Homo sapiens: one gene and its partner. The protein of the gene in region 2 purifies or fractionates together with the protein of the main gene of each other region. This does not show direct contact. Each region holds a gene or a part of one and is shown on either strand. Other genes may lie near its edges.

Region 1 (4,026 bases), on a different chromosome or scaffold from region 2:
CACAGTTTAATCGTTCCTCTAATGTTGTGCACTATTTTCCCATTTTTTCACAATCACAAATTATGATACAATGACTATCTTTTGTGCATATGTGAAATTACCAATATTAAGCATTTTGACCCATAAAAATGACAAGTTTGTATAGTCAAACCTAGTAGATATTTAATATTTTGGATTATTCCCATTATCCCCATTTTTAGTTAGGTGACTTGAGAAAAGTTTACAAATTTTTGTTGATACTCATTGCTAAACTGCTTTTTCTACCAATTTTATAAATGTATACTCCTTTTACAAAAGTGTCTTAGGTTGGTGCAAAAGTAATTGCGGTTTTTGCCATTACTTGCAATGGCAAAAGCCGCAACTACTTTTGCACCAACCTATGACTTGAATCCTGTTTTTCAGTTCTTCAAATTTTGATAGACACTTATCTTGCACATCCATATGCACGCTCCTCTCTTCCCAGCACTTTGTACATCTCTCATGGCTCATAACACATTCTTCCATCACGTATGTGTACACATATGGCTGTATAGGAAAACAGCTTCTGGAGGATAAGAACAATTTGTTTTGCGGTTTTTTATTTTTAATAAAATCTCCTAGCTTGGTGCCTTATGCATTTCATTTATTTATTCAACTAACATCTTCCAAATTCACATAAGGGACCAGTTATCTGTGAATGGTGTAACAGGCCTTCAAAAAGTCCACGAAACTAAACATTACCAGTTTCAAATATACCCGACAGGTCTCATTTTAACATTCATGCCCCACGTTTTAAGTTCCCAGATTGCTACCTTCCCATGTTTTTGGTGCTCTAATCTGGAAACAAAAACTCTGAAAATTTAGTTTTGAATGTATTATGTGAGGGCCTTTCCCTGGGCCCTGCTAATAATTCCTTAAAATGCTCCCCAGAACCACATGTTTGGGGACTTAGGATAATCAGTGAAATCTAGGGCAGCCTGTCGGTCTGAGACTTTTCACAGGACTCTGAAGGGCACCGGGGTAATTCCTTTTTAAGGACAGCAGTGCAGTGAAAATGCAAATCGTGACAGCAACAAGCTCCTTCCAGTTCCGGAGTGCCCGCAGGCTCCTCCCGGTCGCCGCCGTCGCCTAGCGAATGGGGTGGGGGCTCGCACGGTCCCCGCATCTCGGAGCGCCACGGCGGGCTCCTGCCGCCCCGCCCCACCCCACCCCCGGCGCGCGTCCCGAGCCCCGCCCGCGCGCCCGGCAGGAAAGGGCGGTCCTGCGCTGTGGCCCACGCTCGCTCCCGCTGTCGGACTCTGGGCCTGGACCGCGCGTGGCCGGCGCCAAAAGCGAGAGGCATGAGCGCGCGCCCGGGCCAGTGAACTGCTCGGGGATGGACTGCGGCTCGGTCGGCGGCCAGAGGACCCAGCGCCTGCCCGGCCGCCAGCGGCTTCTCTTCTTGCCCGTGGGCCTCAGCGGAAGACCGGGCGGCAGCGAAACCTCAGCACGCCGCTGCCTCTCTGCGCTCTCCGACGGTCTGGGGGCGCTGCGCCCTCGCGCCCCGGCGGCCCGCGGCGGCGTGTCACGTGCCTCACCGCTGCTCCTCCTCCTGCTAGTGCCCTCCCCGCGCTTGGCCGCCGCAGCCCCGCGCCGGCAGCTCGGGGACTGGGAGCGCTCGCGCCTCGGGTATGCCGCACCCCCGGCCGGGCGCAGCAGCGCGTGGAGGTGCTCACCGGGCGTCGCCGCTGCCGCCGGCGCCCTTCCCCAGTACCACGGCCCGGCGCCTGCACTCGTTTCCTGCAGGAGAGGTGAGGCCCGGGCGGGAGAGGAGAGGGGGCTCGTCTCGCGGGGTTGGACGGCGGGGCGGGGATCTCAGCTACAGCCTCCCCGAGGAAAGGCCCGGCAGGCCGGAGGGCGGGTCCTCCAAGGCCACCGGCATCTGCCCGGAGCGTGGGTCGAAGGTCCGGGCCCGCCCTGCTCGGCCGCGGTGGCGGGGCTTAGCCCAGAAGAGACGAATTCCTGGGAATCCCGGGCGCTAAAGTTGGAGGGAGGTGCGTGCTGGGGCGGGGAGTTGGTGCCCGCCCACTCCTAGGGTCTGCTTTTGGGCGCCGCCTTCCAGGAGTTCTGTTTGGCAGCGCCCAGCCTGTTGGGCGTTCAAGGGGAAGGGGTGTGTATGTTTGAGCAGCAAAGCTCTGGGAAATGAAGGGATTGCTTTACAGTTTGATTTCAAATTCTGATGGAATCATTAATTCGTGGAGTCCTAGCGTCTGCCCTGTCCCTGGCGCTTTTCTAGATGTGTGAGATATATCAGTCCACAAAATCTTCCCTCTGGAGCTTAATTCTAGCAGAGCAGACGCAGTAAATATGTGTGTGTGGATATACGTATGCATAATTGATGTATATATAATTTATATATACAAATAATTTTTATATATTCGTAATTCGATGCCTGGTATAGAAAAATAGGATAAGGCTTGGGAAGTGGAATGGGTCTCCAGTTGTGAATTTAAATAGGGTGATCAGAATCGATTTCATTGAGAAGGTAGCATTTAATTAGAGTCATGCATCTCTTCAGGACAGTCGCCTACTGAGAAATGAGTCATTAGGCGACTTCTTCCTTGTGTGAATATTGTAGAGTGTGCTTACACAAACCTGGATGCTACAGCCTACTACACACCTAGACTATCAGGTAGAGGCTAGTGCTCCTAGGCTACAAACCTGAACAGCATGTTACCGTACTGAATACTAGAGGCAATCTGAACACAATGGTATTTGCGCATCTAAATGTAGAAAAGGTAGAGTAAAAATATGTATTATAGTCTCATAGACCACTGTCGTGTGTGCCCCTCTGTCCTGGGCTGAAAGGTAGTTGTGGGGCTCATGACTATTTAAAGGAGGTGAGAGAGATCACTGCCCTGGAGATGAGGAAAGTAAATAGAATCAATTTATTAGATAGCATATTGTTGATTAAAGAAAAAAATCATTTCTGATAATCAACAGACTTGGCAAAATTATCACTTTGGGCAGTCTATACATATTCATTAGTAGCCATCACTAACTACACATTTTTCATATTTTCTTCAACAGATAGGCCCACTAAATGTTGACCATATCTATAATTTAAGAATATCATTGGCTGGGGTAAAAACTGATTAGTAGAGCAATAAAGTGAAGGAAACTTTATATACAGAGAGTGGGGAATGAGTAGTGAACTCGGTGTCACTGTCCTTCAGTAATTAGGAGTCGGAGATGAGTTTGGTCTTTATTCTGTATTTTGCCTTTTGTTGCGCTTTTTCTGACAAGCTAGTAATTTCCAATTTGTTTTTCTCTCAATGCAAGAGTATAGGGCAAAAAGAGAGTGTTCTTTCTCACGGATTTGCTGACCAATCGGTAAGGTGGTACTGTTGTTTTAGTGTCAGCTATCTCATTCTTCAGTCATCATAAAAAATGAGTATGGATGCATAAAAACAGAAGAGAGCAGAGACACAGTTAAGGAAGCATGTATGCCCATTAACCAGCCAATGAGCGTTTCCCAACCATTTGTTTGCTTGGTGCCTGAGGTTCTCGGTTGAGCTACTTAAGGATGTCATGAGTAGGAAGTTTGTATTTGGTTTCCTCATCCTGTCCAAGGCTACCTTTGGGCCTCTATTGTAATTGTGGGTTTTTAATATTCTCTTGATATGCTGAAGGTCCCCAGAAAGGGGAATTGCATGTTACACGTTGACACAGCTCAGTTGGCTCGCTTCCTTATGATCAGTGAGGAGTCTGGGAGTTGGCGGTGTCCTCAGGTACTGCCCTTTGACAGAAGGCCAAGAGGGCATTTCCTTCCCTCATCAGGGGTTGGAGTGACCAATGGAAAGTGGCCAGCCCTTCTGTCGACCTTTCAGAGGCAGGATTTCTTGGAAATAAGCTTGCTGTTTCTGGTTCCAATCTTTTTGAAAAAGAACAACAATAACAAAAAAACTGTAGTATCCAAATTGGCGTTACAAAGTAGTCATGTGATTGTTTTGTTTATGTGGGGGTGGGGGTGAGGAGGTTATGTTTTAAATACATGAATGATTATTT
Region 2 (3,500 bases):
GACACTTGAGTGCATTACAGAGTAGAGTTTGCAGAAATGCTTGAACATATTACAGAATAGAGTTTAGGAAAAGGAGGATATCTGCTCCAATTAATCAGTCAAGTGAAGGTTAAGGTTAAGAGAGCTTCCACATTAAGCTGTGTATGCAGAAGACAAAAATACACAAAGATAAACAACAAACCTGGAATTAGAATGGGGAAATAAAATAAGATTTGATTACTTTTTAAAATACAATTGTATGTTGCTAACTTCCAACAAGCATGTATTATTAGATTTTTTTTTTTTTTTTTTTTTTTTTTTTTTTTTTCAGACAGAATCTGGCTCTGTTGCCCAGGTTAGAGTGCAGTGGCACGATCTTGGCTCACTGGTACCTCCACCTCCTGAGTTCAAGTGATTCCCATGCCTCAGCCTCCTGAGTAGCTGGGATTACAGGCCTGTGCCACCACACTGGGCTAACTTTTTTTGTATTTTTATTTTTATTTATTTATTTTGAGACGGAGTCGCACTCTGTTGCCCAGGCTTGGAGTGCAGTGGCACGATCTCGGCTCACTGCAACCTCCGCCTCCAGAATTCAAGTGATTCTCCTGCCTTACCCTCCCGAGTAGCTGGGATTACAGGTGCATGCCACTATGTCTGGCTAATTTTTATATTTTCAGTAGATACGGGGTTTCACCATGTTTGTCAGGCTGGTCTCGAACTCCTGGCCTCAAGTGATCTGCCTGCCTCGGCCTCCCAAAGTGCTGAGATTATGGCACCCAGCCTACTAGATTTTTTAAAGTAAAAAATAAAAAGAATGTTGTGAACTAGATAATAGTATCTCCAATTTTTTTTTTTTTAGAGTCTCGCTCTTGCCCAGGCTGGAGTGCAGTGGTGCGGTCTCGGATCACTGCAACCTTCGCCTCCTGGGTTCAAGCAATTCTCCTGCCTTAGCCTTCCGAGTAGCTGGGATTATGGGCACCTGACACGACGCCCAGCTAATTTTTTTGTATTTTTAGTAGAGACGGGGTTTCACCATGTTGTCTAGGCTGGTCTTGAACTCCTGACCTCGTGATCTGCCAGCCTCGGCCTCCCAAAGTGCTTGGATTACAGGTGTGAGCCACTGCGCCCGGCCAGTATCTCCATTTTATAGAAAATGAAAGAGGTTCAAAGAAGTGAGAACCTGTTCAAGATCACAGAACTCACCATAAGCTGTTGAAAAGTTAAGTCATGTTTGCCTGGATTTTCAAAGCTCTTGTTTTCTCAACAGTGCCAAATTCTCTGGCAAAAAACCCTCAAATGGACCACTGTATGTTCTGTTTTAAATACATGAACAAAAAGCACCATGTGTTTTTTTTTCCTTTAGGTAATATAGTCAGGTGAAGCCAAAAGAAAGATTTTCAAAATGACTTATAAATTTGATTCTACAGCCCAGCGTTCAGGCTATCATTTAAAAGGATGAGGGTCATAAATTTCTTCCTCCTGTGCAAGCAGAAAAGGGATCATTTCTTCCTCTGCTGGCCTGCATAACTCCTTTAATTCCCCCTTCTCTCTGTCCATGTCATCCTTCTCCAGTTGTTCAAACAGCAACCTAGAGGCAGTAAACCAAGACACTAGGAGAGTCTGCTATATTTGGAAATTTGGGAAAATGAACGCCAATAAAAGTAACCTTCCACATACCTGCATTAGCTCTCCTTAAAACCTATGTCCTTATTCTTTCCCATCTGAAATAGCTGAAAACAATTGTCTGCAATAGTTATTCATATTCAACTGGTTCCAAAATAAACAGAAGTGGAGAACTGTAGAAAAATCCTGGAAGATATCAAATGGGCTGAGAAACATGATATGAAATAAAATGCCTTGGGGAGTTCTAACCAAATAACATCATAAAAAAATTGAAATACAGGAAACCTGAGATTTCCAAAATATTTTACTTTTACTGATTTCAATATACCAAATGAAGAAACATATTGAGAACCAACTCCTAGCAGTGTCATCCTGTTCTGTACTGACCCCTGTGGAGATTCCAAACACATACTCCATACTGCTAATGAAGCAAACCTGAAACCTAGTGTCACTCCCTAGTTGAAAAATCCTTTGATGGCTCCCCTCATCTACAGATTAAAGTTTAAACATTGTGAACAGCTTTGAAAGGCCTCCAAAATCTGGCTTTAATTTACCTTTCTAGTCTTATTGTCCACTTTCAATACTCTTCAGTTCATCACCACAGACACTTCACTTTCCCATCTCCCTACCTTGTGCAAGCTATTTCTTTAGCTTTGAATATTCTGCCCAACACATGTTGAAACTCTATTCCTCTTCCAAAGTAGCAAGGTATATTAGTAAGAACTCAGCCATCAAGTCCAGATCTAGACCCACTAGAATTCCACTACCTAGTAGCTTAATCACCTTGAGTAAATACATCAATAGATCTGCTTCATTATGCATACCACCTATGGTACTTTGTAAACTGCTGTAAGGATTAAACATAATAGTTATACATTAACACCATGCCTAAGGCATAGTAGATACTTAATAAATGTTACCTGCTGGCCAGGTCCGGTGGCTCACGCCTGTAATCCGAGCACTTTGGGAGGCCGAGGCAGGTGGATCACCTGAGGTCAGGAGTTCGAGACCAGCCTGGCCAACACGGGGAAACCTTGTCTGTACTAAAAATACAAAAATTAGCCAGGCATGGTGGCAGGCACTTGTAATCCCAGCTACTCAGGAGGCTGAGGCAAGAGAATAGCTTAAACCTGGGAGGCAGAGGCTGCAGTGAGCCGAGATCGCACCACTGCACCCCAGCCAGGGCAACAGAGCAAGCCTCCGTCTCAAAAACAAACAGACAAAAATTAGCCAGGCACTTCTAGTCCTAGCCACTTAGGAGGCTGAGGTGGGAGGATCACTTGAGCCCAGGAGTTTGAGGTTGCAATGAACTATGATCACGCCACTGCACTTCAGCCTGGGCAACAGAGATATGTTGTCTCAAAAAAAAAAAAAAAAAAAAAAAAAAAAATATATATATATATATATGTGTGTATATATATATGTGTATATATATGTGTGTATATATATATATGTATATATATATATGTGTGTATATATATATGTATATATATATACACACACACACGTATATATATGTATATATACAATATACATATATACACATATATATATATCTATATATATCGCATACCCATTATTCATGTGTGTACTTGACTTCTCCATTAAGTTACACAGAAGATGGTTGTGGATATAAATTTCTAAATCTCTACCACTTACTACTTGTGAAAGCTATTTGACCTCTCAGAACCTGTTTCTTCATTATTAAAATGAACAAGATTAACCCTTTACACTGTTATATTAAAAGGTTTAAAAGAGTTAAGGGGCCAGGTGTGGTGGCTCACATCTGTAATCTCAACACTGAGGCAACTCATCTCAACACTGTAATCTCAACCTCTGAGGCAGCAGTTTGAGAGCAGCCTGGACAACATAGCAAGACTCCCGTCTCTACTTAAAAA

Evidence for each region. The genes of interacting proteins can lie anywhere in the genome.
Region 1: the proteins of FAF2 (region 2) and MCUR1 purify together in Homo sapiens (affinity purification with mass spectrometry; 3 studies listed by BioGRID and IntAct, with this or other methods). This does not show direct contact.

What each region holds. Positions count from the first base shown.
Region 1 is NC_000006.12:13,811,758-13,815,783, reverse strand, and holds the start of MCUR1 (mitochondrial calcium uniporter regulator 1), read left to right. Parts: upstream 1-1,226; 5' UTR 1,227-1,354; coding exon 1,355-1,769; coding exon of another isoform or gene 1,770-2,012; intron 2,013-4,026. UniProt on the Homo sapiens protein: Key regulator of mitochondrial calcium uniporter (MCU) required for calcium entry into mitochondrion. Plays a direct role in uniporter-mediated calcium uptake via a direct interaction with MCU.
Region 2 is NC_000005.10:176,451,385-176,454,884, reverse strand, and holds part of FAF2 (FAS-associated factor 2), read right to left. Parts: intron 2,571-3,500; exon of another isoform or gene 1,657-2,570; intron 1,568-1,656; exon of another isoform or gene 1-1,567. UniProt on the Homo sapiens protein: Plays an important role in endoplasmic reticulum-associated degradation (ERAD) that mediates ubiquitin-dependent degradation of misfolded endoplasmic reticulum proteins.